3 separate regions of the Homo sapiens genome follow, and regions 1 and 3 are each linked to region 2. Evidence: fine-mapped expression QTL. A gene starts in region 2. Each other region holds a variant in brackets. All regions are shown on one strand. Distances are from middle to middle. Region 1 overlaps GNB1 (G protein subunit beta 1). Region 2 holds the start of GNB1 (G protein subunit beta 1). Region 3 overlaps GNB1 (G protein subunit beta 1).

Region 1 (10,102 bases), 54 kb before region 2:
AAAATTTTTGGAGATAAACTCAATGATCAGTACCATCTTTTTGTTATGTGGACATGCACCAGACACCCTGTACAGGAGTTCAGGCACAGCAGTGAACTGGCTGATGGGATGAGGCAGGAGAGACGAGAAAACGTGACCATCACATTCCCCATGGGCTGCAAGGGAACCAGGTGCCAGGAAGAGCGAACTTAAGGGAAGCAAACAACCTTCTGGTTCCCATAAACAGCCTTCTCAGTGGCTCTTAGTTCATCTTTACCGTGAAGACAGTGAACGAAACAAAAACGAACAGTGTACAAAGCATGATGCTTTTGTGTGTACAAGAAGGACAAACGCCAATGCCAGGGCAAGCCATCTTTTTTCTTTTTTTTTTGAGATGGAGTTTTGCTCTTGTTGCTGAGACTAGAGTGCAGTGGCACAGTGCTGGCTCACTGCAACCTCCGCCTCCCGATTTCAAGCGATTCTTTTGCCTCAGCCTCCCGAGTAGCTGGGACTACAGGCACATGCCACCACAACCGGCTAATTTTTTGTATTTTTAGTAGAGACAGGGTTTCATCATGTTGGCCAGGCTGGTCTTGAACTCCTGACCTCAGGTGATCCGCCCACCTCGGCCTCCCAAAGTGCTGGGATTACAGGTGTGAGCCACTGCGCCCGGCCCGCCATCTTTTTTCTACACACACCAGATGTTATGGCGTTGTTTTTGGAGAAAGAGAAACAGGTTAGCAGCTTTTATTCTTCTCATTATTCTTCAAATATAGTTTGCTTACTAACCCCCCTACACACCAACACACGCATACAAAGTTAACAGAGGCTAATCTGGGGTCCTAGAACAAAGAAACATTTTTTTCTTTATACTTTTCAGTTTCAATAAAATAATATTACATTTTTTTTTTTTTGAGATGGAGTCTTGCTCCGTCGCCCAGGCTGGAGTGCAGTGGCGCGATCTCAGCTCACTGCAAGCTCCACCTCCCGGGTTCACGCCACTCTCCTGCCTCAGCCTCTCCGAGTAGCTGGGACTACAGGCGCCCGCCACCACGCCCAGCTAATTTTTTATATTTTTAGTAGGGACGGGGTTTCACCGTGGTCTCCATCTCCTGACCTCGTGATCCGCCCGCCTCAGCCTCCCGAAGTGCTGGGATTACAAGAGTGAGCCACCGCGCCCAGCCTTAATGTTACATTTTTTAAAAAAAATTTCTGTGAGGGTCTCACACTCTTGCCCAGGGTGGAGTGAGTGGCATGATCATAGCTCACTGCAGTTCAAGCCATCCTTCTACCTTAGCCTCCAGAGTAGCCAGGACTACAAGCAGACTCCACCCATCACACCCAGCTATTTTTGAAATTTTTGGTAGAGACGAGGCCTTGCTATGTTGCCCGGGCTGGTCTCAAACTCTTGGCTTCAAGTGATCCTCCTGCCAAGGCCTCCCAAAGCGCTAGACTCTAATCTATTGCATGAGCCACCACACCCAGCCTAAAGTTAACTTTTTAAAGTTACCTGATGCAGCCAGGTGCAATGGCTCAAGCCTATAATCCCAGCACTTTGAGAGGCTGAGGCAGGTGGATCACCTGAGGTTAGGAGTTCGAGACCAGCCTGGCCAACGTGGTGAAACTCCGTTTCTACTAAAAAATACAAAAATTAGCCAGGTGTGGTGATGCGTGCCTGTAATCCCACATACTCGGGAGGCTTAGGTGGGAGAACGGCTTGAACCTGGGAGGCGGAGGCTGCAGTGAGCAGAGATCGTGCCACTGCACTCCAGCCTGGGTGACAGAATGAGGCTCCATCTCAAAAAAAAAGTTACTTGATGCAATTCGCTGGGTATCGTGGAACGTGCCTGTAGTCCTACCTACTTGGGAGGCTGAGGTGGGAGGATCGCTTGAGTCCAGGAGTTCAAGGCTGCAGTGAGCTATGATAGCACCACTGCACTCCAATCTGGGCAACAGAGCAAGATCCTGTCTCTAAATAGTTACTGGAATAACTGTAACATATTGCTAAGAACAATAAGGAAGACAGTAATAATTTGGGAAAACGCTTACTATATACTAAGTCAAAAATAATATAAATTTGCATATAGTTATTTTATTTGAGACTGAGTCTAGCTCTGAGGCCCAGGCTGGATGGAGTGCAATGGCGCGATCTCGGCTCACTGCAACCTCCACCTCCTGAGTTCAAGCGATTCTCCTTCCTCAGCTTCCCAAGTAGCTGGGATTACAGGCATGCACCACCACACCTGGCTAATTTTTGTATTTTTAGTAGAGACAGGGTTTCGCCATGTTGGCCAGGCTGGTCTTGAACTCCTGACCTCAAGTCATCTGCCTGCCTCAGCCTCCCAAAGTACTGGGATTACACGCACCCGGTCACATGTAGTAATTGTAGCTGCTTTATTATAATTAAAATAGGTCTGGGCGCGGTGGCTCATGCCTGTAGTCCCAGCACTTTGGGAGGCTGAGGCTGGCAGATGGCTTGAGCTCAGGAGTTCAAGACCAGGCTGGGCAACAACATGGCAAAAACCTGGTCTCTACTAAAAATGCAAAAATTAGCTGGCGCAGTGGCACACGCCTGTAGTCCCAGCTACTTGGGAGGCTGAAGTGGGAGAATCCACTTGAGCCTGGGAAATTGAGGCTACAGTGAGCCATGACTGTTCCACTACACTCTAGCCTGAGCACATGGAGTGAGACCTTGTCTCAAAAAAAAAAAAAAAAGAAAAGAAAAAAGAAAAATATACTCACTTTAAAGAAAGATAGAATAGCATTTTTATTATAACTATTAGTCACGTTTTTCTACTAAACGTAATATTGATGCAGCTTCCTTTGAAAATTAAAGAATAAATGTAAATTTTAAAAGTCTTACTCACATTTAATTGCTCTTGCTTTTCTCTTCGCTTCCCTCAGTCCCCCAGACCTTCCAGAACACCCACCACCAGGTTTCCCTGGCCTGGGCTCCTCTCCTCCGGTGCCGACGTCACGGCTAAGCTCTGGCTGTGCTGACTCCAAGAGCCCGCCCGTCTAATCCACTAAGACAGGCTCTGCTAAGGCCTCATGTCTAGTCTTCCTGATGACCCATATCTGCCATTGGCTTTTATTCAGAATCTGAGTTTTGGAAATCCTTTTGAGAGAGATTTGAATAACTTAAAAGCAAGCAGGTGAAGGGATCTGCCCCTACTTTAGAACAACATCTTTGTGAGTCAAGTGTTAGCAAGATTTTTAAAGTCAGAATATTTCATATTTGCAATGCAATGTGCTCCGTGTAGTGCCTCTACCCTTCATGGCAATGCAGCAGCCCAGGCCTCTCATCCAGACCCCTGAGAGTCTAGGAGGGGCACCTCAGCGGTGCCCTCAGGACCCCATATTACACAGTCACCAATAACAACATTCAGGCTGCAAGTTTGCCAATGACAAAATAGGGTACAGATATTGAAAAATAATTTCAAGTTCTGGTTCTGCAACATACAAAGAATAATGCTTTCACTAAATTGTTTTTTACTCTAATCTGCTTAATTCAAAATGGGAATGGTGTTATCTATATCACAGAGCTAAAATGAAAATTAAATCAGACAACCAATCTGAAAGTGCTCTGTCAGTCTCACAGTGATTAAACTATGACGTGTACCTTTGACTAACAATCTCAAGGACAACAGGCACCATGCTCACCAAAGTGCACACATGTGGTCCCACCACCAAGCAGCAACAGGGCAGTCCTGAGTCACCTGGTCACCAGCTAGCCGCACACCCCTGAGCCTCCTGTGCAGCACTGGATGGCTGCATCTCTGGATGGTTTGGACAACTTCCGAAGTCCAAACCGGCCCCAGTGTCTTACACCGGGGCAGGAAATTTGCTAACTTGACCAAACACACAAGGATCACAGCTCACCTCCAAGACGAAGCAGCATTTTGAAAGAGAGGAGTTTGCATGAGGAATTTAAACCAATTTCACTCACTTTTCCATTTTTCTTTCATTCCCAAGTCCAGGTCAATCTCCAAAACTAAGACTGTGGGAATTCAAAGGGCAACGGAAAAAGTCCTCAGGCCCTGCTTCCCTTACGCACCGCTCCTAACAATACTGTGAGGAATAAGGGGAGCAGGGGACCACCGCAACTGATAAAGGACACGACCACTAACGCAGCTGCAGAGCAACGCATGCGCAGACCCTCCCTCCAACACAACAGGCACTGTAGAGCCTCAGCATGGTGCTGAGCAGCATGAACCAGGCTGGATTCTAGTTTGAGGGAGACAGAAGACAAACAGGTAAATCACGTGGAGTTACAGAGGCTGGGAGCGTACACAGTCACTGCGAACGGGTGAAGTGTGCCAACGAGGGCAGGGAGGATGCTGCTTTGCATGGCTGTTAGACATGACCTTGCTAATGGGCCAACATTTGAGCAGCAGGCAGATGGGCAAAAATAACACAACTGTTCTTGTTTGAGGTGCTATTTTTTGCAATGGTAACAATTTTAAAAATCTTACCTTAGGATTTTGCCTGTGCCTATAAAGTAATCTTAACGAAAAAGTGAATGTGACCAAAGCTCTAGAACTAGAAGACAGGGAAACATGTTCAATGACCCCACAGAGGCAACGGTACTACACAATGGCCTGGGAAACACTCCAGGACAGACGACCAGGCAGGTCGGTTAGTCTGTCTTTAACAAATAAACTTCAAGGGAAAAAGGAGAGAAAGCAAACAATGGAGGGAGGATTTCTGGACTAAGTGAAGAGACTCCCCAGAATCATCTCCTTCATGTCCCAGTCACAAGTGAGCTCACTCACCCATTAGACGCTGGCAACTGGGGGAAGGGCAGGAACTATGGTGTGCGGTCACAAAGCCCTCAGAAGGCAATTCTCCAGGGAGGGGTCTAACAGCCAGGGGTGAGCCAGTGAGGCACAGCTGCTAAGAGCTTACCTCTGACCCTTGGAACTCTGAAATCCCAGAAGTGGCTACTGACTCTCCCGAAGCCTTATTATTTCTCATGCATCACAAAAAACATCTGATCTCCCATTCTGCTCTCCCTTTTCTAACCCTGTTAGCCTATGGCCTCTTTTTGCTTTTAGGGCGGAGCACAAAATCTAGCACATACTAGGACAATTGGAAATCATTCAATAGATACACATCTTCAAACATGTTGAGGCCAAATTGGAAGTCCCACTTTGATCATTTCAAAGCCAAACTTTATATGTAACTGATGGAGTCTCATGAAATGAATGGCATCCATCCAGAAGACGGGTCTAACAGGGAAAGGTGGTGAGAAACTAACAATCATGCAGCGCACACAACAGAGGAGGCTAAACTCCAAGCACTTTTTTTTTTTTTTTTTTTGAGATGGAGTCTCACTCTGTTGCCCAGGCTGGAGTGCAGTGGTGCGATCTCGGCTCAGTGCAACCTCCGCCTCCCGGGTTCATGCCATTCTCCTGCCTCAGCCTCCCAAGTAGCCAGGACTACAGGCGCCTGCCACTATGCCCTGCTAATTTTTTAAATTTTTATTAGAGACGGGGTTTCACCGTGTTAGCCAGGATGGTCTTGATCTCCTGACTTCATGATCCGCCCACCTCAGCCTCCCAAAGTGCTGGGATTACAGGCGTGAGCCACTGCACCCGGCCTCCAAGCACCTTTTATAAGGGGCCTGGAAATCCTTAGGTTTAGGGAAAGACTGCTGTGTGCCATGCCATCTGCACTCCAGTATATAAAAATAATCTTTGTTTTTACATTTACTGCTGCAAACTACAATGAATACTATGTGCTTTCCCAACAGCAAATGGGCGGTGGGGGTTAGAATTCTGTTCCTAGAAAAACTTCCGTGTTTTTATTGGCATTTGCAGGTCCAGCCCACTTAAGCAGGACCAATGATGTCTGACAGCCCTGGCTGGAAGCAGAGTGACGCTTCATGGCAGGAAAGTTGGAAGCCCCAGGTTCTAACCCAGACTCTATCTCTTCTCACCAGGTGGCCTCCAGTAGGTTTCCTAACTTCTCTCTGCCTACATTTTTTTGTCTGAAAGTGGGGACAGTAATAGTCCCCACAGCTCATGCTATGACAATTCCATTAGAATCC[A/G]TGCAAGCCCCTTAGAACCATGACTGACACAGTAAATGCTTACTAAATATGACTTGCTATGAAAGCAGGTGTAAAACTGTTGCCCTGAAAGTTTTAAGTAATGTCCAGAAAACTACCTCCTGCCTCACCTGCCACACTTTCCATCCAGTCAGTGCAGTAGGCCCTTTTGCAGAAATCAAAAATATATGTAGCAGTGGCAACCAGTGTAACAGTGGAGTTAATCAGATAGATGTGATACTTTGAAATCTGTGCATGTTGTTACATGTACAAGTCTTTATGAGAACATCTGCTTTCACTTCTCTTGGGCAGATTCCTAGCGGTGGAATGGCTGGATCATACTACAGGTGTGTGTTGAACATTCCAAGAAAATGCCAGGCCAGGTGCAGTGACTCATGACTATAATCTGAGCACTTTCCGAGGCAAGGCAGGAGGATCACTTGAGCCCAGGAATTGAAGACCAGCCTGGGCAACATACTGAGACCCCGTCTTACAAGAATTAAAAAAAGAAAAAAAAAAAAAAAAAAAAAGCCAGACATGGTAGTGCGTGCCTATAGTCCCAACTACTTAGGAAGCTGAGGCCAGAGGATCACTTGAGCCCAGGAGGTCATGGATGCAGTCAGCTATGATCACACCATTGTACTCCAGTCTAAGAGACAGAGTGAGACCCTATTTCAAAAAAACAAAAAACAAACTCAAAAAACAAAAAAAACCAACTCTTTTCAAAATGGTTATGCTGGGTCACATTCCCAACATCCTATAAGCAATGTGGAGAGTCCCGGCTCCTCACGCCCAACAACGCTGGGTGGGTGTCACAGCCATTCTAATGGGGGCGTGGGCTGTAGTCTCCATCTGCATCTCGCTGACTGCTGAGCTTCTGAGGCACTCAATTGCTGTCTATACAGTTTCTGGTAAAGTGTCTGTTCAAGTCACTTGCCTCTTTTTTATTGGGTTACCTGTTTTCTTAATATTGCTTTTTTTTTTTTTTTTTTTTTTGACACAGGGTCTCGCTCTGTTGTCCAGGCTGGAGTACAGTGGTGTGATCGTGACTCACTGCAGCCTCAACATCCCGGGCTCAAGTGATTCTCCCACCTCAGCCTCCCAAGTAGCTGGTACTACAGACACACAACACGATGCCTGGCTAAATTTTTTTTTTGGAGACAGTCTCGCTTTATCACCCAGGCTGGAGTGCAGTTGCACAACCTGGACTCACTGCAACCTCCACCTCCCAGGTTCAAGTGATTCTTGTGTCTCAGTCTCCCAAATGGCCGGGATTATAGGCATAAGCCACTACACCTAGCTAATTTTTGTATTTTTAGTAGAGATGGGGTTTCCCCATGTTGGCCAGGTTGTTCTCGAACTCCCAACCTCAGGTGATCCGCCTGCCTGGGCCTCCCAAAGTGCTGGGATTACAGGTGTGAGCCACCGTGCCCGACTGCTAACTTTTTTTTTTTTTTTTTTTTGAAGAGACAGGGGTCTCACTTTATTGCCCAGGATGGTATCGAACAACTGGCTTCAAGCAATCCTCCTCCCAAAGTGCTGGGATTACAGGTGTTAGCCATAGTACCTAGCCAAAATTGAGTTTTGAGAGTTCTTACCTATTCTGGATACAAGTCATCTAAAAGACATTTGCTAATATTTTCTGCCAGACTATGGTTTGTCTTTCGTTCTCTGTTTTTTCTAAGGAGCAGAAGTTTTAAATTTTGAACAAATTCAATTTATAAATGTTTTCTTTTACGCATTCTATCTTTGATCTCACATCTAAAAACTGTTTGCTTAATTCAAAATCTCATTTTTTCTAATTTTACGTTTTATATTTAGGTATATGATCCATTGAGTTAATTTTTTTTTTTTTTTTTGAGACGGAGTCTCACTCTGTCACCCAGGCTGGAGTGCAGTAGCGTGATCTTGGCTCACTGCAAGCTCCGCCTCCTGGGTTCATGCCATTCTCCTGCCTTGGCCTCCTGAGTAGCTGGGACTTCAGGTGCCCATCACCACGCCTGGCTAATTTTTTGTATTTTCAGTAGAGACGGGGTTTCATCGTGTTAGCCAGGATGGTCTCGATCTCTTGACCTCGTGATCCACCCTCCTTGGCCTCCCAAAGTGCTGGGATTACAGGCGTGAGCCACCATGCCTGGCCTTTTTGTTTTTGTTTTTGTTTTTTTGACACGGAGTCTCACTCTGTCACCAGGCTGGAGCACAACGGTGCAATCTCAGCTCACTGCAACCTCTGCCTCCTGGGTTCAAGCGATTCCCCTGCCTCAACCTCCTGAGTAGCTGGACTACAGGGGCGTGCCACCACACGTGGCTAAATCTTTTCCTTTGTATTTTCGTAGAGACGGGGTTTCACCATGTTGGCCAGGATGGTCTCGATCTCCAGACCTGATGATCTGCCCACCTTGGCCTCCCAAAATGCTGGGATTACAGGTGAGCCACCTTGCCTGGCCTGAGTTAATTTCTGTACATGATGTCAAGTTCTCCTTTTGCGTAAGAATATCCAATTGACTAACCAGGCGTGGTGGCTCACGCCTGTAATCCCACAGCTTTGGGAGGCCAAGGCGGGTGGATCACCTGAGGTCAGGAGTTCGAGACCAGCCTGACCAACATGGTGAAACCCCGTCTCTACTAAAAATACAAAAATTAGCTGGGTGTGGTGGTGAGCGCCTGTAATCCCAGCTAATTGGGAGGCTGAGACAGGAGAATGGCTTGAACCTGGGAGGGGGAGGTTGCAGAGAGCTGAGATTGCACCACTGCACTTCGGCCTGGGCAACAGAGCAAGACTCTGTCTCAAAAGAAAAAAAAGAATATCCAATTGTTCCAGCCCCTAATTGCTATTCAATTTAATTTTGCTTTTTAATTTAAAATTATTTCAAACTTCAAAGAGTTGCAAGAATAATACAAAGAAACCATGTACCCTCCTCACCCAGACTCACTCACTACGAACATGGCTTCATTATTCCCACTTTATTCAAACAAAAAGGTTTTTGTTTTGTTTTGTTTTCCTGAATCATGTTCACCTTACTTTTTTTTCTTTTCTTTTTTTTTTTTTGAGACGGAGTCTCGCTCTGTCCCACAGGCTGGAGTGCAGTGGTATGATCTTGGCTCACTGCAAGCTCCGCCTCCTGGGTTCACATCATTCTCCTGACTCAGCCTCCAGAGTAGCTGGGACTACAGGCGCCCACCACCGCACCCGGCTAATTTTTTGTATTTTTAGTAGAGACAGGGTTTCACCGTGTTAGCCAGGATGGTCTCGATCTCCTGACCTCGTGATCCACCCAACCTGACCTCCCAAAGTGCTGGGATTACAGGCATCAGCCACCGCACCCGGCCATATATTGGTATTTCAACTAAGATCTGATTTGAAAAAAGGGCTCTCCTGCTTTCTAACGAAAAAAACTAGCGATGTACCACTCTGATTCAGAAGGTAAATCCTCATCACTGGGACCCTAAACCTTCTTGCTCAACACTAAATGGAAGCTTTTTTTGAGGATCAAATTGTTTTGAAAACCAACTTTGGCTTAAAAGAGATAGAAAAAAACTGTAACAAAAACCAGGGTATTGACCAGGCATGCTGGCGTATGTCTATAGCCTCAGCTACTCAGGATGCTGAGGTGAGAGAACCCCTTGACCCCAGGAGTTAGAATCCAGTCTGAGCAACATGGCAAAACACTGTCTCTTTAAAAAACCAACCCACCAGCTATTTATAAAAACAAACTCTGAAGAAATTTATATATTGTCTTTCTAAAACTGATGAGGATCAAATATATCAAAATTACCTTAATTCAGAAGGGCTTCTGGTCTGGTCTCCAATACATGTAAATTTGTCTGAAACAAACAGAAAAGGCTGTATTTGTATTGCACTCAGGTTGTGAATAAAATATTCTATTTTGCTAGTAGCTATATTTTATGCAACGACACATAAATTTGACCCTTCCCTATTACTATTTCTCCCCCAAAATTGCTTTATTTAGCAGTACTGTCATATTTTGTTTTTCAGCATGGGAACAAAATAAGAAATCAGATCTCAACTTCTTTAAGAATCCTTAGAAATGCCCCAGGGAAAATACCTTGAAT
Region 2 (9,817 bases):
ACCATGATCATACCATCACATTCCACACTCCAGCCTGGGTGACACAGCAAAACCCTGTCCCAAAAAAAAAAAAAAAAGAAAAAGAAAAAAAAACCTTTCAAGAAAAGATAAGGATGTGAGAGATTTAGTAGAAAGTAAGGCAGTAAATAAGTGATAGGGATTTGCAAAGATAGCTAATATGCATGTTCCACACCCTGAATTAATATTCTTCTGGAACCATGGAGAAAAAAAGAAAAATCTCAGTAAACTGTCATCTTATAACATTTGTTAACCTTGCCATAAAAGAAATTTTTACAAAGCAAGGCCATCAGCAACAGAAATAGCTAATCCTTGCACTGAGCTCTGTTATCAGTGCCCACATCAGGACTCATTTAATCCTCACAATGACCCCATGAAGGAGGCTCTAGGAGCCTGTTTCACAGATAAGGACAGACACAGAAGTCCTAACACTGCAGGTGGCCTAAATTAAGGCAGGCTCAGGGAGGACAGAAAGCTCCTGTGGAGTGGAAGGGTAGAAGTTGAACTGATCTTGATTTTCAGTGCGAATAAAAGTCCTAACACTGCAAATCAGCCAGTGAGGCAACAGAGCTGAGCTGGGCTCTAACTCAGACAGTGCCAATCCTTTTGAAAACTACTGAATTTCTCTCACTCCCTAGATTTTAGGAATTATTTTAAAATTCCTATGAGAAATTTTCTGAAACCTATTGTAGACTCTTTTGACATGCTCATCTAATTATAAAGTGTCCGGACTTTTTTTTTTTTTTTTTGACCGAGTTTCACTCTTGTTGCCCAGGCTGCAGTACAATGGCACAATCTCGGCTCACCGCAACCTCCGCCTCCCAGGTTCAAGCGATTCTCTTGCCTCTGCCTCCCGAGTAGCTGAGATTACAGGCATGTGCCACCATGCCCGACTAATTTTTTTTTTTTTTTTGAGATGGAGTTTCCTTCTTGTTGCCCAGGCTGGAGTGCAATGGCACGATCTCGGCTCACTGCAACCTCAGCCTCCCGAGTAGCTGGAATTACAGGCATGCATCACCATGCCTGGGTAATTTTTTGTATTTTTAGTAGAGATGGGGTTTCTCCATGTTGGCCAGGCTGATCCACCCTCCTCGGCCTCCCAAAGTGCTGGAATTACAGGCGTGAGCCACCGCGTCTGGGCTAATTTTGTATTTTCAGTAGAGACAGGGTTTCTCCATGTTGGTCAGGCTGGTCTTGAACTCCCAACCTCAGGTGATCCGCTCACCTTGGCCTCCCAAAGTGTTGGGTTTACAGGCATGAGCCACCACACCCAGCCCAGAATTTTTTAAGCTTTATTAACTACAACACTCGGCAGAAGTTGAGTGTCTGTAATCAACATAGGGAATATATTTTCTAAGTGCTACAGGACTGCACACAGACATGCATGGAGACATGATTACCCACCAGTAAACAAGAATACATTCCACTGATGCCCTTAGTATTCCCATTCTTTTTTTTTTTTTGAGAGACGGAGTCTTGCTCTGTCGCCCAGGCTGGAGTGCAGTGGCGCGATCTCCACTCACTGCGAGGTCTGCCTCCCGGGTTCACACCATTCTCCTGCCTCAGCCTCCCAAGTAGCTGGGACTACAGGTGCCTGCCACCACGCCCGGCTAATTTTTTTGTATTTTTAGCAGAGACAGGGTTTCACTGTGTTAGCCAGGTTGGTCTCGATCTCCTGACATCGTGATCTGCCCGCCTGGGCCTCCCAAAGTGCTGGGATTACAGGCATGAGCCACCGTGCCCGGCCAGTATTCCAATTCTAACAGGTGAATGAATTAATACATAAAGTCCTCTCTTGATATAATGCATTAGTAAGTTTGGAGCAATGAATTATTAAATCATAAAAATATTTTATCTATGGCAAAATAGGTTCAACAGAATAAACTTAAAAATTAAGCTGGGCACGGTGGCTCACACCTGTAATCCCAGCACTTTGGGAGGCGGAGGCGGGCGGATCACTTGAGGTCAGCAGTTTGAGACCAGCCTGGCCAACATGGTGAAACCCCATCTCTACTAAAACTACAAAAATTAGCCAGGCATGGTGGCGGGCACCTGTAATCTCAGCTACTTGGGAGGCTGAGGCAGGAGAATCACTTGAACCCGGGAGGCAGAAGTTGCAGTGAGCCAGGACAGCGCCATTGCACTCCAGCCTGGGCAACAGGAAGGAAACTCCATCTCAAAAAAAAAAGAAAGAAAAAAGGAATTACCTTAGATAATCTTAATCTGGTCTTTTAAATCAGTAAGCTTTTAAAAAATGGGTCTTTCTCAGAATTCTAATTTAAGAAGACATAAATAAGGAAATACTTCCACTTAATCTTTTTTTTTTTTTTTTTTTTTGTGAAACGGAGTCTCGCTCAGTCACCCAGGCTGGAGTGCAGTAGCACGATCTCGGCTCACTGCAAGCTCCGCCTCCCGGGTTCACGCCATTCTCCTGCCTCAGCCTCCCAAGTAGCTGGGACTACAGGCGCCCGCCACCACACCCAGCTAATTTTTTTGGTATTTTTAGTAGCAATGGGGTTTCACCGTGTTAGCCAGGATGGTCTCAATCTCCTGACCTCGTGATCCGCCCACGTCGGCCTCCCAAAGTGCTGGGATTACAGGCGTGAGCCACCGTGCCCGGCCCACTTAATCTTAAAAAAAAAAAAAAGCAAGCAAGCAACATTGCTCTATAAAACAGAAAGCTTTTCTACCACTGAAAGCCAGGAGTAATTTCCACTGATTACCATGGCACCCAATGGTAGGCACTGACACAAGAACAAGAGGCTAAAAGGTTTAAAAAAGCTTTCAGCATTCCGGCAGGGCACGGTGGCTCACGCCTGTAATCCTAGAACTTTGGGAGGCTCAGACAGGCAGATCACCGGAGGTCAGGAGTTCAAGACCAGCCTGGCCAACATGGTGAAACCCCATCTCTACTAAAATAAAATTTTAAAAAATTATCCGGGCATGACGGCGGGTGCCTGTAATCCCAGCTACTCGGGAGGCTGAGACTGGAGAATCACTTGAACCCGTGAGATGGTGGTTGCAGTGAGCCGAGATTGCGCCACTGCACTCCAGACTGGGTGGCTGAGTGGGACTCTGTCTCACAAAAAAAGCTTTCAGCATTCCACTAATCCACTAGCAAACTCAAATGTCTATAGATTGTCTCTATTTCTTCAATCAAAGTTCTAGAACAAAATGCATAGCTTTGAAATAGGTGGTGCTCTGTCCCTCTCCCAGAGCAGCTGATGTGATGTTGCATTTCTCTCTCTTCATACACACTCACTCCCATATACGTTGGCCCTGCTTTTTCTTTCAGTAATGTTGAACACTGCAGTTTCATAAATTTCTGATAGTTTCCATTTTAAATTTATTTTATCTCCTCATTCTGTGTTCCTAAACCAAACACTTAACTGAATTGCCTACTTCATAATCTCTCCAACCACTCTTAACAAATGCAAACCTGAAATCAGAATGTAAACCAGTTTAAAATTTTTTTTATTTTTATTTTTTGAGACGGAGTCTCGCTGTGTCGCCCAGGCTGGAGTGCAGTGGCCGATCTTGGCTCACTGCAAGCTCCCCCTCCCGGGTTCCTGCCATTCTCCTGCCTCAGCCTCCTGAGTAGCTGGGATTACAGGTGCCCAGCACCACGCCCAGCTAATTTTTTGTAGAGAAGTAATTTTAGTAGAGAAGGGGTTTCACCGTGTTAGCCAGGGTGGTCTCGATCTCCTGACCTCATGATCCGCCTGACTCGGCCTCCCAAAGTGCTGGGATTACAGGTGTGAGCCACCACGCCCGGTCAAACCAGTTTAAAATTTTATAAAAATTTTTGTTCCATGTCTTGTGAGACTTACACTAAATAGGGGTTTCAAAATAACATGGCCTGCCATATGGTCAAGCCAGATTTAAAAATTGAGAATATCTATTACCAATCCACTAATGCTAAAGCCAAAGTCACAGACAGTAAGAATGTAATCCAATTTAGAGACCAACATGAGCCAAATCTTTCGGGCAGAGAAAAACAACGACAAAACTATAATAAATGCCAACACTGCACTTCTAAAATAATACCAATGTTATTCATTAAAGTATTAGCTACAAAAAGTCAACTGATGGTAGATGAAGTCTAGAGATGCCCTGAAGACCTTTTTCATCCTTTTATCAAAGCTGTTTTTAGCTACAAAGCTACAACTTTTCCAGTGGACCAACACACACATAAAATAAACCAAAAGACCCAGAAATTTTTAGCAAAGCAAAGGGAAGAGAACAAAGCTCTGGTACTTTTGCAGGATAGTACAACATCTCCTTTGAGAAATAAATTAACTTTTCAAATTCTGTTTCTCAAGTGATCAACATAAATCTACCTAGATGATACTAGCTTTGAAATCAAAGTCATTGGGCATCAAAAGGATTTACAGAGGTTTTTACTCTTTTGAGACACAGTCTCACTCTGTCGCCCAGTGGCACAATCTCGGCTCACCGCAACCCCTGCCTCCCGGGTTCAAGCGATTCCCGTGCCTAAACCTCCCGAGTAGCTGGGATTACAGGCGCCCACCACCACGCCGGCTAATTTTAATATTTTTAGTAGATACGAGGTTTCGCTATGTTGGCCAGACTGGTCTCAAACTCCCAGCCTCATGTGATCCGCCCGCCTCCACCTCCCAAAGTGCTGGGATTACAGGCGTGAGCCACCACACCCAGTGGGTTTTACTCTTAAAAACAAACAATAAAAAAACCACACACTATTCTGCAGTCTCTTGAATCTTCTAAGATTAAAATTAAATCTGAGAAAATTTACTTCAACTTTCCCACCCACCAAAAAAACAGAATTAACTGAAGATATCAAAGAAAAAACAATATTTTAAAGGTATCACTGAAGAGCACTGTCAGTACTTGTCTGATGAGATAACTATGGTTCTGTCATAAATTCAGATTACGCGAGAGAAATAGCTTTTGGCCAGTGGATGTGCTCTTTTGAGAAAGTCAATTCTGAGCTGAAATTTCATGTTGGAACAGTTTCCTCTATAAGACTCATCTTGAAAGGTTCCCGCAGAAGATAAAATGTCATCCTCACACTGGGCCTGGGCAGTGCGCACTTAACTGGGAGGGGGCACAGGCACCTCAGAACTTAACTGGTTTTCCAAACTCTCAATCTCAAAAAAAAAAAAAAAGGCGGGCGGGGGGAGCACTTTCAGTGTTGATGAAACCAAATGCTCGTAACCTGGGACCACCGCCCAACACCTGCAGTCCAGCCTTCCCCCAGGGTTGACAGCATCAGCCTCTGGACCCTGCAGTTGCAGTTCATTTCTGCGCAGCTCTAATCGTTAGAAAGTTCTGCCTTACCGGCTGGGCGCGGTGGCTCACGCTCGTAATCCCAGCACTTTGGCAGATCAAGGCGGGTGAATCACCTGAGGTCTGGAGTTGGAGACCAGCTTGGCCAACATGGTGAAACCCTATCTCTACTAAAAATACAAAAAATTAGCCGGGTGTGGTGGTGGTAGCTGTAATCCCAGCTACTCGGGAGGCTGAGGCAAGAGAATCACTTGAACCCGGGGGCGCGGAGGTTGCAATGAGCCGAGATCGCGCCACTGCACTCCAGCCTGGGCAACAAGAGCGAAACTCCATCTCAAAAAGTAAAGAAAGTTCTGCCTTAGCATAAACCAAGACAAAACCCACCATTCAGTCCTACCCTGGGGAGGCTCTCAGACCTGTCTCCATGTCAGTGGCACCACCTCCATCCCCAGCCTCGAACCCAGCGTTAGCAAAGAAGGAACCGCCTATCCACTTTCTTGATATACATACCTTCCCAAAGAATCCAGAATAGACTATGCATGTCAATAGCATGAAAATTAAAACCTTACTTTCAATAAAGAGCTCCTCCCTCTCCCAAAAGACTATCACTTCAGATTAGAAAATAACTTATGCAAAAACCTTATCAATAACAATGCTTGCTCCAAAGACCTTATTCAGTATGCAGTTCACTGAAACTTTCCACAAAACTAATACGTCCATTTGCTAATCATGAAAAATAATCTTCATATTTTCTTAATTAATAATCTCACCAGCAACTGCTTAATCACCTAATACTATTTGAGACTAATGTTATCAGATAGATAGCAACATGAAAATACAATGAACCAATGCTCCCCAAAAGAAAACCATAGGTTACCATTTCTACACTATTTACCCATAAGTCCAGTACTGTACACCCTAACTGTAAATGTACACCAACTCCCTTTTCAAAACACAAATTTTAACATCGGCGTTTTCCTTCAGGAGCCCATTTCACAATCTTAAGAAAAAGCTTCCATGAAGACAGGCTGGGCACGGTGGCTAAGGCCGCTAATCCCAGCACTTTGGGAGGCTGAGGCGGGAGGATCGCTTGAGCCCCAGAGTTCGAGACCAGCCTGGTTAACAGGATCTCTTTTACAAAGAGATCCCATCTCTTAAAAAAAAAAAAAAAAAAGGCTTCCATGAAGATGAATTAAGCAAACAAAAGCTGATACTGCTTCTGCATGCTAACCATGTAATTTAACGGACACAAGAAATGTTAAAATATCATTTGAATCAACTATCGATTCACAAGAAAAAATATAGCAGGTTCTTAAAAGTCAAAAGCCTCAGCCGACAGCCCTGTGGAATTTTCAACAGATCTCCCCACTCCCCACCCCCACCCCGCTTCCAGCCGAAAAGCCGATCCAGGCAAGAGGAAGACACCCAGCCTTTGTGCTATTTCCTGTCCTCTCCCCCACCTTCGGGCCTTCGGAATATCGCAAACCGGGCCCCGAAACTCGGCGCGGCGGCGGCCGCCCCACAAAGGCAGCGGTGGGAGCGCCATCTTGGCGCGGCCACCGGGCCCATTCATTCGCGGGGCCGGGCCGGGGTCCGCGCAACCCTCGAGTCGACACGCGCGGGGCGCCAGCGCCGGACAGACCCGGGCCTCGGCAGGAGAAGGGCGAGGCCACAGCGCGACTGCCTCAGCGGCTCGACACAGCGAAAAGGGCCGAAACCGTTATTTTCCCATTTCCCGACGCCGCGCCCGGCTTCCGCTTTAAATCCCTACTCCGACCGCGGCGCGCGGCCCGGCTTCCCCATTTCATTGTTCCCCTTCCCCACGCTCGCGCCCCGCGGCCGCCCGGCCCTCAAAGTCACCCCGATAGGCGGCCCGCGCGGGGGCTCCGGCCGCCGACACCGCCCCGCCTGCAGGCCCGCCCGGCCTTTGTTCTCGCGCCGCGGGCCCGAGAGCCACGTCCGGCTCCCCACGCAGGGCCCGGCCCCGCCCGACCCGCGCCCCCGGGGCCCCGGCCGCCGCCACGGGAAGCGCCCGCGGCGCACACAACCCCGCACCCCGGTGCCGAAACTCGGCCCCCAGCCTTGGGCCTGGGACCCCGGCTCCTCTCCCTAGACCCCGCCCTCGACCCCGACCCTGCACCCCGAACCTCGGACCCCAGCCCCCGGCCCCCCCTTCGGACGCCGCCCGCCGCACCCGGGCGGGGCAGGAAGACGCGGCCCCGACCGGCGGGTGGGGTGGGGGCGGGGCGGGCGCCCCCAGGGCGGGCGGGTGGACGAACAGGACCCGGGTCCGGGGCTGGGGGCTGCCGCGCTCACCTCAGCGCCCTCGTCGCGGCCTGACGCGCCCACACCGCCGCCTCGGCCGCCGCTCGGCAGGTCGTCGCGCTCGGGCCGCGCTGCGCGCTCCGCGGGCGCTGCGGGCAGGTGCGCGCCGGCGAGGCTCGGTCCAGTCCCGCCGCGGCGGCTGCTCCACTCCCGGCCCCGCTCCCCACTCGCCGCCCGCTCCCGCTCCCGCCGCCGCCGCCGCCGCCTCCGTCCGCCCCTCAGACGCCTCCAGCCATCGGGATGGGCGCGGCGGGCCCCTGCCCGCAGCCTCGGAAAACCCCACGCGCTCGCGTCACCACGCACGCCGCGCGTCGCGCGCGCTCGCCAGGCCCGACGGGCACGCGCACGCCTGTGCGCGTCCAAACCGCATCGGGCCCCGAGCGCGTGTCCGAGCGGCTTAAAGGGGCCGTGCTGCTGCCTTCGGGTACCGCTGCCCCGGGAGACCCCCGGCGGCCCGGCCCTGCGGGGACCGGGCGGGATGGGGACCGGGGCAGTGGACCCTCGGAGTTGGGATGGGGCGGGGGGAACGCGGGCGTGGAGCCCTCCGGGGACAGGGTAAGGTTGGGTAACCGTGGGCGGGGGCTCCTCCAGGGGCGGGGGTGGGGTAACGGCGGGCGGGGGGCACTCAAGCGACAGGGCAGGGGCGGGAAGGCCGCGGGCGGGGGCGGTCCCTCCGGGGACGGGGCGGGTGGGGGCACCGCGGGCGAGATCGCTTCCTGCAGAGGAGGCAACAGGCCCCGCTAGCAGGTCAGGGTCCCGGGCAGGCGCAGGTGCCCCCCGGCCTCTCAAGCAGGGACTGCGGCGAGCTCAGACGCGGCTGACGGGCAGAGACTCGCGCTTGGGCTCAGTGCGTGTGAAGTGGGCCTCGGGCTGCGGAGGAGGGCAGCACCCCGTGGCTCCTCGCGCTGCTGCGAGCAGGGCCGCCTGGCAGGGGCGGGGGCCGGTGGGCGGGAGTGTCGGGGTAAGGCCGCGGACTCCTCCCATGCCGCTGAGCAGTGGACAGCGGGGACTGGAGACCTCCAGGTGAGGAAGGGGAACGAAGTCAAGAAGGCCACATGTCCTGGCTTCCAGGCTTGGTGTCCTCAGAAGCCTCCAGAACGTCCATGGAACCCGCCCCTGCGCCCACCGCCTCCTGCTGTCTTTCCAGCTGAGTTCCGGCTGCCCCTCACCCTCGGCTTCTTCACTCTGCCTCTCCCCAGCCAGCGCCCTGCTCCCCGGTCCTCAACCACCACCTTCCACCTGCCTGGGCCTTCATCGCCTCCGAGCTCCCCTTCCACACCAAACCTGGCGTCCGTTTTCCTCCAGGCCTGCACCAGCACAGCTGAAGGGGAGAGAGACCCAACCTCATCCACTGGGCCTCCCCTCAACCAGGGCCACAACCTCAAGGGGCCATGCCACCTCCAACACCTATTTCCCACCTTCTACTCTCTCCACACCCTGGGACACCACCCGCCTCTCTCAGCTGACGTTTTCCTTCTTGTTTTGTGTGCATGGTGCTTGTGTGAGAAAGTGGACACACAGTAAGTGCGGCTTCCAGATGCGTCCGCCACCTGCCCTCCGTGCCACGCGCTTCCCCCTACCTAGGGGAGCCTCCACCAGACAGGGAACCCACGCCTTGCCACCCTTCTCTCTCCCTCCCACTTCACCTGTCCGCATCATTTCTGGAGCCCTTTCTTTCTGGCACGAGATGCTCCAGGGCCCTGTTGTATTCTCCCTGCCCCAGCCTGAACCCAGCTATTTCTGCTGCAGCCTGGTTCATTGTGGGAGAATGTCATGCAGAGCCCGGGATCTGGCTCCGGATGTGCTCATTGCTACTGGGGTGTCATTGCAGCTGGCGGAGCAAGGGAACACATCTATGTACATGCCCACACGCATATGTATACACACAGTTTCATGGGCGTGTTTGTCTGTTTTTCTTGGGCACCACGTGTTTACTCTGATGCCAGGCCAACACTACAGGGCTCAACCTGTTCGGAATGAGGGGCCTCCTGCTTTGGGAGTGAGGAACCTGGCTCTGATTATCTCCTGTGTAACCAGTCTCTCATCCTTGCTTCCACCCCACCATATGCTACCCGCTCCTCACCCTGCGTGGCCTCTGACCTCCGCTGGACCACCGAGGCCCCGCCCCCACAGGGGCGCCTGCCTGCCTAGCACAGTTGAGCAAGGAGTGAATTCCCAGTGAAATTTTTTTAATTTTTATTTTATT
Region 3 (10,102 bases), 100 kb before region 2:
GTGTGTGTGTGTGTGTAGAGATGAGGTTTTACCATTTTGCCCAGGCTGGGTCTCAAACTTCACCCGCCTCGGCCTCCCAAAGTACTAGGATTATAGGCGTAAGCCACTGCACCTGGCCCAGCCATTGTTTTCTGAGGTTCAGTCCCTGTCTATACTTTCTGTGTGATCACCTGGCCCAGGGTCGGTGTGGACCTGAGTCCTCTGCAGCCCTTCCCCACACCCGCATACCTGCTCTCTGGTCAGGACTCCTGGGACTTGAATCCAGAGACACGGAACACGGCCTGGCCAAGTCTTCCTGAAAAACACAGCTCTTCAGTTCAGGACCACAGTGAAGTACAGGGCACCAAGGGTGACTGGAAAGGGAAGCAAGGATCATGAGAACTTGGGGGATTTCTTAAGCTCTGTAACTTCTCCCGGGGTTATTTTGCAAACCCAACTGTTTCAAAGTGACCACCAGCCACACCCACAGAAGCGGCCTTGAGCTGCCCAGTTCTTTTTCTTTGGCGGGGGGAGAGGGGGCGGATAAGATCATTAACATAATAATGCGTGAGCTGAGTTTTTGCATATGATCATTAGCATAATAATGCTTGATCTAGATGGCGCACCCACAAGCCAGGCACTGAGCCAGGCCTCAGTAGAATCTTCTAGAGTGGAGGCAGTCAACTGCTTCTGCAGAGGCAACCAGTGACTGTCGTGGGCCCCAGGTCACACAGCAGGTGCCCTTCGCGTGTCCCGCTGTGTAGGGAGCTCCAGCAGCTGCCCCGTCTGTGGCATGAAAACCCTTTGTCTACCCTGGGCCTGGGCACTGCCTGCAGGAGAGCTTCCCTGTTTCAGAGATGAGAAAACAAAACCAGGGCTGTGGTTTCCTTCAGCTGACAGGTTGTGCAATTTCTCAGGGCAGGCCCCGGATATGACCTTGAAGATTCAGGGGCCAAGATCTCACACCCACACCTCACCCCAGGCCTGGCCAGCAATAACTAAGACCAAAGCTGGGAAGGCTCCTTAGGGCACCCAGAATGGTCCAAGAGGCAGCTTTGCTTGGGCTGAGACCAAAGGGAAGAGATGTTCCCGCAGCAGGAACAGAAGGGTCCAGGGCTATCATGGGGGCTTCTGCCAGATGGTGCACAGGAAGAGGCTCTGCCTTCAAGGGATTGGGGGTCAGGAAAGGCCCCCTCCTGCCTGACCAGGCCCCAGGGATGGGGCAGCAGTGGGTGGCATCCCCTGCCCTGACCTTCCTCAGCCCCAGGGCTGCCATTGCTCAAGGTGGCAGTGGACTCTTCACATAATTTCGCATTGTTTTTTGTATTCTTTAAGGATGGCTCCCATGTTGTTTACTTCAGAACCCCCAAAACCTGGACCCATCCTCTTCTGGGGGTCAGCAGGGATGGGGAGGGTGGAGGGAGAAGGGGGAACGGAGGCCATGAGGGATGGAGCAGGATGGGGTGCACTGGGGTACAGGTTGCTCCTGGGGAGGCTGAGGAGAGAGGGAAGTTGGCTTCAGGTGGCCTGGCTCCAGTAAACTGGGTGAACGAAGTCTGCCCAGAACCCACAAGGGTAAGTGGCCTGGAGCCTGGGGAAAGGATGACTGGGAAGGACTGAGGCTCCCAGTGAAGGACATCAGTATGGCAGGCTATCTGGTCATCTCATCCAGCCTCCAGCCAGCACCCGGCACAGGCCCTGCCCAGGCTGAAAGCCAGGATAGGGGCGTCTGCAGGGGCCAGTGTCTGGATCTGCTCACATGACAGTCTTCTGTTTGGCCTGGTTTGGGGCGAGGGGCAACCTCTTTCCCAGGATGCCAGCCATGTGCAGGGCATACTGAGGATTCAACAGTGGAAACCAAAGTCCATCAGGTGTTCACCTTCTAGTGGGGCAGACGGGCAAGAAGCAGAATTGGTGGGGGCAGGCAGGGGTTGGGGTACAGTTTTGACCAAGGTACCCAGGGACAAGTGTTTCTCTCTCAGGCAGAGGCAGCAGCAAGGACCAGGACCCTGAAGTGGTGAGAGCCTAGAGTGGGCGGGGATCATCAACAGTAACCACCTGGCAGGACTGGGACTCCCTGTGTCCTCACAAGATCCTTACCAAGCAGCCTAGTATAAGACGAAGTCTCGCTCTGTAGCTCAGGCTGGAGTGTAGTGGCATGATCTCAGCTCACTGCAAGCTCCGCCTCCCGGGTTCAAGCCATTCTCCTGCCTCAGCCTCCAGAGCTGGAGTTACAGGCGCACACCACTGAACCCGGCTCATTTTTTGTATTTTTAGCAGAGACGGGGTTTCATCATGTTGGCCAGGCTGGTCTTGAACTCCTGATCTCAGGTAATCCATCCACCTCGGCCTCCCAAAGTGCTGGGATTACAGGCGTGAGCCACAGCGCCCGGCCACAGCCTGGTACGTTTATTGTCCACATTTTTCACGCGGGGGCCAGAGGCACAGAGAGGCCAAGTAACTTGCTCAAGGTCACCCAGCGAGGAAAGGGAGCTGGGGGGTGGGGGTAGGGGACAGGGCGAGGCCAGAGAGTAGTGGGAGGGGCCGAGGCGGCCTTTCCCGGGAGCGCTCGGTTCCCGGCCGGCCCTTCTATTGGCCCCAGTCACTCAGGCTCCCAGGTCCGGCTCGGGGGGGAGCGGGGGGCCGCGCCAGGCCGCTGAAGTGTCCCCGTTTCGCGTGGGCAGAGCGCGCCTCCCCACGCATCCTGCTGAGGGCCAGCCTCTGCTAGGTGCGTGACACGGAGGGGACAGAACGGAAACCTTGTCCTGCTCAAGTGTGGACGTGCGTGCCACGTGCTAGAGTAAAATTGAGGTGGGGAACCTCCATCCCTGGGACATGGAGCACAGGGGCGACCCCGCGCCGCTTGGTCAAAGGAGGTCCGAGGCCCTGCAGGAACAGCCCACAGCCGGAGCGAGCTGCAGGTCACTCCACTGCCTGTGTCCACCTGCGACAGGTGCGCCCGCGCAAGCGGGGCGGAGCCAGGTGACCCGGACACAGGAAGCGCGCCAGGGGCCCCCACACCGCGGAGCTGCTGGCGACAAAGGGCGCTGCTCCTGCATAGGCCAGGCTAATGCAATCTACAAACTAGATTTCTGTGCCTACAGTTTGAAAATGATTGCAGTTCACTCAGCCAGTGTGGAATTATCCTCCTCTTTCCACACTGCCTTAGTCAGTGCCGCTGTCCAAGTGCACGTTGTTGGCGCCCGTTTTCATTTCCTGTTTTGCTAAGAAAGTGGGGCAGTGGCCTCCATGCCCGCCAAGGGACAGGCAGGCCGCCCCAGGGAGGGGTCCCCCTCAGCTCTGGCTCTTCCAGGCCAAAGCCAAGGGGAAGGGGCACCAGAGGGTCCCAGGTCCCACATGCCAGCTCCCTCAGTCTGCGGGGTGCCAGGCTAGGACACAGAAGCCAACAGGAATCCCCAAAGGGAGGAAGTGGAGTCGGGGGTGTGGCAGCCGTGCTGAGATGCTCGGCCTTTATTTACTCTGGGCAGGGACCAAGATAGGCCACTGCAGGCCGGCACCCTGCCTCCCGGCTGCTGGAGCCCCTCCCTCCCAGGAACTGCCAGCCAGGAAAGAGCCTCAGGTACTCTCTGCATTTAATTTTTAATTTTTTTTTTCTTTTGACGCCTCCAAGACAAGTTCAACTCTCTAGTGATTTTAAGTGGGGTTTTTGTAAGACAGCTGGCAGGGTTAGGGCTTGTGAAGAACTTGCATGTCTATGAAGAACTGATTTATTTCAGGGAAAAGTGGGGGATGACGAAGCCAGGCGAGCCCACCCCGTTCAGCCTGCCAATCACACCCACTTCAGCAGCCTAAAACAGCACCAGGTCACCCCACCAGGGAGACAACGCCATAGTGTCACTTGCAGTGCTGGCAGATGGGCACCCTTGGTGGCGTCAGAAACACACCCAGCACCTTGCCTGGAGCAGGGCGGCTGGGCCCTGCTCCGTGAATCCCAAGTGCCCTATGGGAGCCTCTCCGGCCAGGGACTGCCAGCCTAGAGGAGGGGCTGCTGGGTTCTCTGGTGCCCAGGGGAGGAGGGGGCCTACAGGTACTTTCTGCTGAGAGCCTTCTTCACTTACTAGGAAAAAGTTTGGCTGGGTGCGGTGGCTCGGCCTGTAATCCCAGCACTTTGGGAGGCTGAGGAGGGCGGATGACAAGGTCAGGAGATGGAGACCATCCTGGCTAAGATGGTGAAACCCCGTCTCTACTAAAAATACAAAAATTAGCCGGGTGTGGTGGTGGGCACCTGTAGACCCAGCTACTCGGAAGGTTGAGCCAGGAGAATGGCGTGAACCCAGGAGGCAGAGCTTGCAGTGAGCCGAGATCGCGCCACTGCACTCCAGCCTGGGCAAGAGCGAGACTCCATCTCAAAAAACAACAACAAATTAGCCGGGCATCTGGGCCAGGCGCGGTGGCTCACACCTGTAACCCCAGCACTTTGGGAGGCTGATGTGGGTGGATCACAAGGTCAGGAGATCGAGACCATCCTGGCAAACATGGTGAAACCCTGTCTCTACTAAAAATACAAAAAATTAGCTGGGCATGGTAGCAGGCGCCTGTAATCCCAGCTACTTAGGAGGCTGAGGCAGGAGAATCGCTTGAACCTGGGAGGTGGAGGTTGCAGTGAGCTGAGATCGCACCATTGCACTCCAGCCTGGGCAAAAAAGAGCGAAACTCCGTCTCAAAAAAAAAAAAAAAAAAAAATTAGCGGGGCGTCGTGGTACGTGCCTGTAATCCCAGCTACTTGGGAGGCTGAGGCAGGAGAATCACTTGAACCCAGAAGGCAGAAGTTGCAGTGAGCTGAGATAGCGCCACTGCACTCCAGCCTGGGCCACAGAGCGAGACTCCACATCAAGGGAGAAAAAAAAAAAAAGTTCCAGCTGCTGGAGCCATGGGAATTAAAAAATTACTTTTTTTTTTTTTTTGAGAGGCAGTCTTGCTCTCTCACCCAGGCTGGAGTGCAGTGGTGCGATCTTGGCTCACTGCAAACTCCGCCTTCCCGGGTTCATGCCATTCTCCTGCCTCAGCCTCCAGAGTAGCTGTGATTACAGGCGTGTGCCACCATGCCCAGCTAATTTTGTATTGCCTATTTAAGATTTTAAAAAATCACCAGTTTGGAAAGCAGGGAAGTGGATGGTTCTGGAGCCTAGGAGCGGCTATTTGGGACACACACAGCCATGGTTTTCCACACTACCATGGCCAGTGCTCATTTTTTTCTTACTAGATGCAGTTCTTTATATTCAGACCAAGAGGAACACTCAGTTCAGTCCCAAGGAAAGCTAGTCTCTGGAGTAACATCCTCAGACATTCTAAGGGAGGGAAATGGCAGAGGAGAAAGGCAAGGCAGCCGCCTGTGGAGACTCCCACGGTGCTGTGGGCAAGGCCTATGCCTGGGGAGGGGTCTGGGCGATGGCAGGTGGACCTCCCTGCTCTGCTGGCCTGTGAGGTGGAGCTTCCCAGGAACCCCTCCGAGGAGCCAATGCGCCACTCATGGATTCTGTGACGTGGTGGCGGCCATGGCACCGCCTGGCATGAGCAGGCCCGTCAGACCTCACAGCAACAGGGACAGCTTAGGGAAGCGGGCGCGTTGCAAACTGGAAGTGGACCCGTAAATAATCACCACACCAAAGTCCCTCATGTCAAACTGCTTTATTACATCTTAAATAACAGTACAGTTTAATATAGTATCTATCTTGCATCCAGCTTCCTTGCAGTACACTGACTTTAAAATTAAATACAAAAGGTGGAAAGGGGTAAGGGTGCAGAGAGCTCTACAGAGTTGTTGGACGGAAAGAGAAAGAAGGGGTTTCATTTGTATTCTCTTTGCCAGATCCAGGCCTACCGCAAGGTCACAGCACAGTTTTGTATAGAATGTTGCAGAAAACAGGATGGAGAAGCCACTACTGCTGCTATGAAGGAGTGCGGGGGGCGGGGCGGGGGGTCCCACAGAACCTGCTTTCCAAACGCTGCTGCTGAACACTGGCCTTGAAATGAACACCAGGACAATCTGTGTGTGATGGGAATGAGCCACCTCAGATGTGGAGGGCCCTGAAGAATCCATATAGGAGGGCAGGCTCTTCACTCCCTCTCCCTCCCTCTCTCTCCCTCCCCACCCTCAGAATCCAACAGCAGTCGTTTGCAACAGAACTTTTTTTTTTTTAAAGAAATAAAGAAAACAGTGACTTATCCCGCTACCCAAGCGTGTAGAGCCGCGCGCTGTACTGCTTCCGATATGTGCCACAGAGCAGCAACGAGAAGTGGACAGAGCCGCAATGGTTACAACTGTAAGAGGTTATTTCTTAAAAGAAAAAGAACACCTAAGGACTGAGTCCCATATGCACTTTTGAGCATTTCTACAGCATGCGATTCTAAGAGTAAACCCACCCAATATGGCAAACAATCAAAATTTTTAAAATTTAACTTAGAAAGTCTGAGATCATTATTTTCAAAACATTGATTTGTACATTGTTTCATACACAAATAATTGACTGACTATCCAAGCACAGGACAGGCATCTCTCTTGAAAACAGAGGTTCCTCCTAGTTGGGGGTGGGGTAGTGTTAGGCTATTATAAACTTCCCTCCAACTTCACAAGGAAACCCAAAGTGAGATTAAAAACTCAACTGAGAAGATAGACAGGATGGGTCAGGAGGAACATGGTGCTGGATCTGAGCTCACTTTTCAGCAAAGGTGAAGGATTCTCTGATCACGCATTTGAGACCGTCCCCGCATGTGCTTGGCCCCATGGCTTCTGAACATGTTCTTTTCTATGCCACGTTTGTGTGCAACAATGATCTGTGACATCAGACAGAAAATTAAAAACCAGGGACTGAATTTACATCATTGACAACATCAGAGAGGCTGCCCTAGACTCTCTGGTTTTGATTAACTGTTGAACACAAAGGAATACATTTTAAAAAGGAAATATGAATGCTTCCAAAATCTTGCTACAAACATGACTGAAATTTGGACACGATGACCAGATGAACAAAGCCCTCAGCATGTTTTGCATGAATGCCACAAAACAGGGTCACTGGTCTAAAATTCAAATACACTGGTGGAAAAGTGTGTCTGTCTGACAATTACACTCAAGTTTACCTTCTGGTTAACATTTTTATTATATATTTCCTTTTAAAATTCATTCAAGACAAAAAAGAAAACAAAGACGATGGCCCCGGAAGGAATGCACAATTTGTTTTAGTTTACAGCACAGAGATCTTTCTCTCAATGGGAATTGTGCTCTTGGTTTCAGCAATAAGTGAAGGAAAAAAGATCTTGCCCTTTTGAAGTTCTGAGGGGAGGTGTAGGGTGTCCACGTTAGTACGGTTGGATAGGATATG[C/G]TCTCATGGTAACGCGTCCAAGTTGGAATGGTCTTCCAGTCTCCATGGCATCCACATGCTGTTTTAAACAGAGTTTAAAGAAATGTGAAAAGAGGCAGAGAATCTAAGTGCAGACGCACAGCCAGGTCACTGCTCTTCCCATCACTGCATGAGTGTCTGCAGCTGAGGGCACGTGACTTCAGCTTTCTGTAAACGTTTCCCACAACACAATTCCAAATCAATGCTACATCAACATTTATCTAGAAACCGTTAATGACAACTTCAAATGTTCTATGAGAAACACGCACAGTTCTCCTCAGAGAAGGGCATTTGGGCTGCTGCATTACCTACTGGCGTTAGTTCCAGATCTTGAGGAAGCTATCCCAGGACCCTGTCGCCACAGCCATGCCATCGTCAGTCACGCCCAGGCAGCTGACGCGGTTGTCATGCCCAGCCAAGACACCTGGGAGCAAACAACAGCAGAATCACACCAAAGCCCAGAGGCATCGATCTCACCTGTGTGCCATGTTGTGACGAGGACGGATGGTGCATCTCTCATGGGACAAGACCCAGAGTCTCCCACGGCCAGGAAGGGAGGGAAAGTTGCATCCACGTGGGGAATTAACCTGCAGCATATGGCCAGCCTTGTTAAAATTCAAAGACACGCACACACACGCAATCGATAAATCCAGAGCCCCTGGCATTGACTTCTCAGCACTCACTTATAAAACTTAAAAAAAGAAGCAAAGGCCACTATCAAAAAAATCAAAACTATCATCAGACGCAGTGGCTTAGGCCTGTAATCCCAGCACGTTGGAAGGCCGAGGCAGGCAGATCATGAGGTCAGGACTTTGAGACCAGCCTGGCCAATATGGTGAAACCCCATTTCTACTAAAAATACAAAAACCAGCAGGGCGTGGTGGTGCGGGCCGTAGTCCCAGCTACTCAGGAGGCTAGGGTAGGAGAATCATTGGAACCCAGGAGGTGGAGCTTGCAGTGAGCCAAGATCGTGCCAGTGCTCTCCAGCCTGGGCGACAGAGCGAGACTCCATCTCAAAAAAAAAAAAAAAAAATCAAAACCGCCCCAATCTCAAAGCAATCTGTAACACAGGAGCTTAGAGGCATGAGCCGTTTTTCCTTTGTCTGTGATCCCTAGAGCCCAGCACAAGGCACAGAACACAGGAGTAGCGATGGTGGCTGAGACCACTGGCACTGCACTGTCACTGTCATGTGATGAGGGGGCCTTCTGTCAACACTCCCAATAACCTTGGCTTGGATCATCACCAGCCAGAAGCTCCACTTCCTCCCAGGGGGATCCGAAGGCCCATTTCAGCCACCCTCCTCCACCTCCTGCAGCCACCACACAGCTGAGTACAGGGGCCGGCGTGTGCTCTGCCAAGGCCTGGGCTGGCTTCCACCGCCCTTCAACAGCACTGTGACTGTGAGACTTGGCTGGAAATGGCTCCACTCTGGTCCCCCCAGGCTGGGGAGAAAAAGAAATGTGTTTAACCAGGAGGTGGGAGTGGCACCCATCCGGAAGCAGGAAGCCCCGGTAAGGGCCAAGACCTGGAGCCATGCTCCCTTCTGTCCTCCCAGGTACTGAGACAAATGAATCTAAGTCTGTAAGTGTCAACAGTTCTCAAATTCAAATGCCCAAATGACCATTTTTAGTAAGGAAGTCTCATCTTTTGTACACCTGGCAATAACACGCTTGCCTTTGATATGTTAACTGTAACGGCACCCAGAGGTGTCCCTGCATGGAACTCCTCCCCCTGAAGCAGAGTTCAGAGGGGAAAGCACGGGGCTGGGCCCTGGAGCCTGCACAGCTGACCCTCTCCTGCCCACTGACTCTCCCCAGAGCCCTCCCCGACGCATGTGGGAAGATCTGCTGGTACTCCTCGGAGTCCACTTGCCTGGAGGGTCAGAGCTGGGCCATCAGTTTGCGACTGTCACTCCTGCTACGCCATGCCACAGTCCCACCGATACTAAAACACTGCAGCTTATGCAACCACTCTGTGTTTGCTCTAAAGATACCACGTAAATGTCCACAAGACACAGAAAGGCCCCATGGCCACGTACCTGCCCGGTCGGCTTTGAGTGCATCCCAGACGTTGCAGTTGAAGTCGTCGTACCCAGCAAGGAGGAGGCGCCCGCTCTTGGAGAAGGAGACAGAGGTGATCCCGCAGATGATGTTGTCATGGGAGTAAGTCATGAGCTCCTGGTCAGCACGAAGGTCAAACAGCCTGCAGGTGGCGTCGTCTGAGCCAGTGGCAAATGCATTGCCATTTGGAAAGAACTGGAAAGAGAAAGCAAATCAAGACATCATGTAAACGCTCAGAAAGAAACATTGGGAATATGGATTGCTCAATGGTAGGGCTGCAGAGAACACAGCAGGCAAAGACCAGCAAGACTGTGCTCTGGTAAGAACAGAGGGCTGGGCCGGGTGCGGTGGCTCATGCCTGTAATCCCAGCACTTTGGGAGGCTGACGCGGGTGGATCACCTGAGATGGGGAGTTTGAGACCAGCCTGACCAACATAGAGAAACCCCATCTATACTAAAAATACAAAATTAGCTGGGCGTGGCGGCGTGCGCCTGTAATCCCAGCTACTCAAGAGGCTGAAGCAGGAGAACTGCTTGAAACCGGGAGGCGGCGGAGGCTGCGGTGAGCCAAGATTGCACCATTGCACCCCAGCCTGGGCAACAAGAGCAAAACTCCGTCTCAAAAAAAAAAAAAAAAGGGTGGGGGGATGGGGGAGGAACTACAGGGGACTGGGATGGGAGGGGATTTGCACTGGGGAGGCACA

The links. PIP is the estimated chance that this variant, and not a neighbour inherited with it, causes the effect.
Region 1: its variant is fine-mapped to the expression of GNB1 in lung (TOPMed, PIP above 0.99).
Region 3: its variant is fine-mapped to the expression of GNB1 in whole blood (TOPMed, PIP above 0.99).

What each region holds. Positions count from the first base shown.
Region 1 is chr1:1,829,386-1,839,487 of GRCh38, forward strand. It overlaps GNB1 (G protein subunit beta 1), which reads right to left. Exons shown (of 12, transcript NM_002074.5): 2 at 9,805-9,853. Among named protein-coding and RNA genes, the nearest start is that of NADK, 56 kb to the left of the region's middle. The variant A/G (reference allele first, on the strand shown) is at 6,032.
Region 2 is chr1:1,883,218-1,893,034 of GRCh38, forward strand. GNB1 (G protein subunit beta 1) reads right to left here and starts at 7,870. Exons shown (of 12, transcript NM_002074.5): 1 at 7,603-7,870. GNB1-DT (GNB1 divergent transcript) reads left to right here and starts at 7,963. Exons shown (of 2, transcript NR_168264.1): 1 at 7,963-8,166; 2 at 8,683-9,509. RefSeq lists an enhancer at 5,383-5,882 and silencers at 7,185-7,374, 7,935-8,124, 8,245-8,344, 8,405-8,654.
Region 3 is chr1:1,779,677-1,789,778 of GRCh38, forward strand. GNB1 (G protein subunit beta 1) reads right to left here. Exons shown (of 12, transcript NM_002074.5): 10 at 9,377-9,593; 11 at 7,646-7,761; 12 at 5,610-7,377. The coding sequence ends at 7,655. It also overlaps a transcript of NADK not described here. Among named protein-coding and RNA genes, the nearest start is that of NADK, 6.3 kb to the left of the region's middle. RefSeq lists enhancers at 570-739, 750-809, 820-889, 900-999, 3,309-3,478 and a silencer at 3,094-3,388. The variant C/G (reference allele first, on the strand shown) is at 7,320.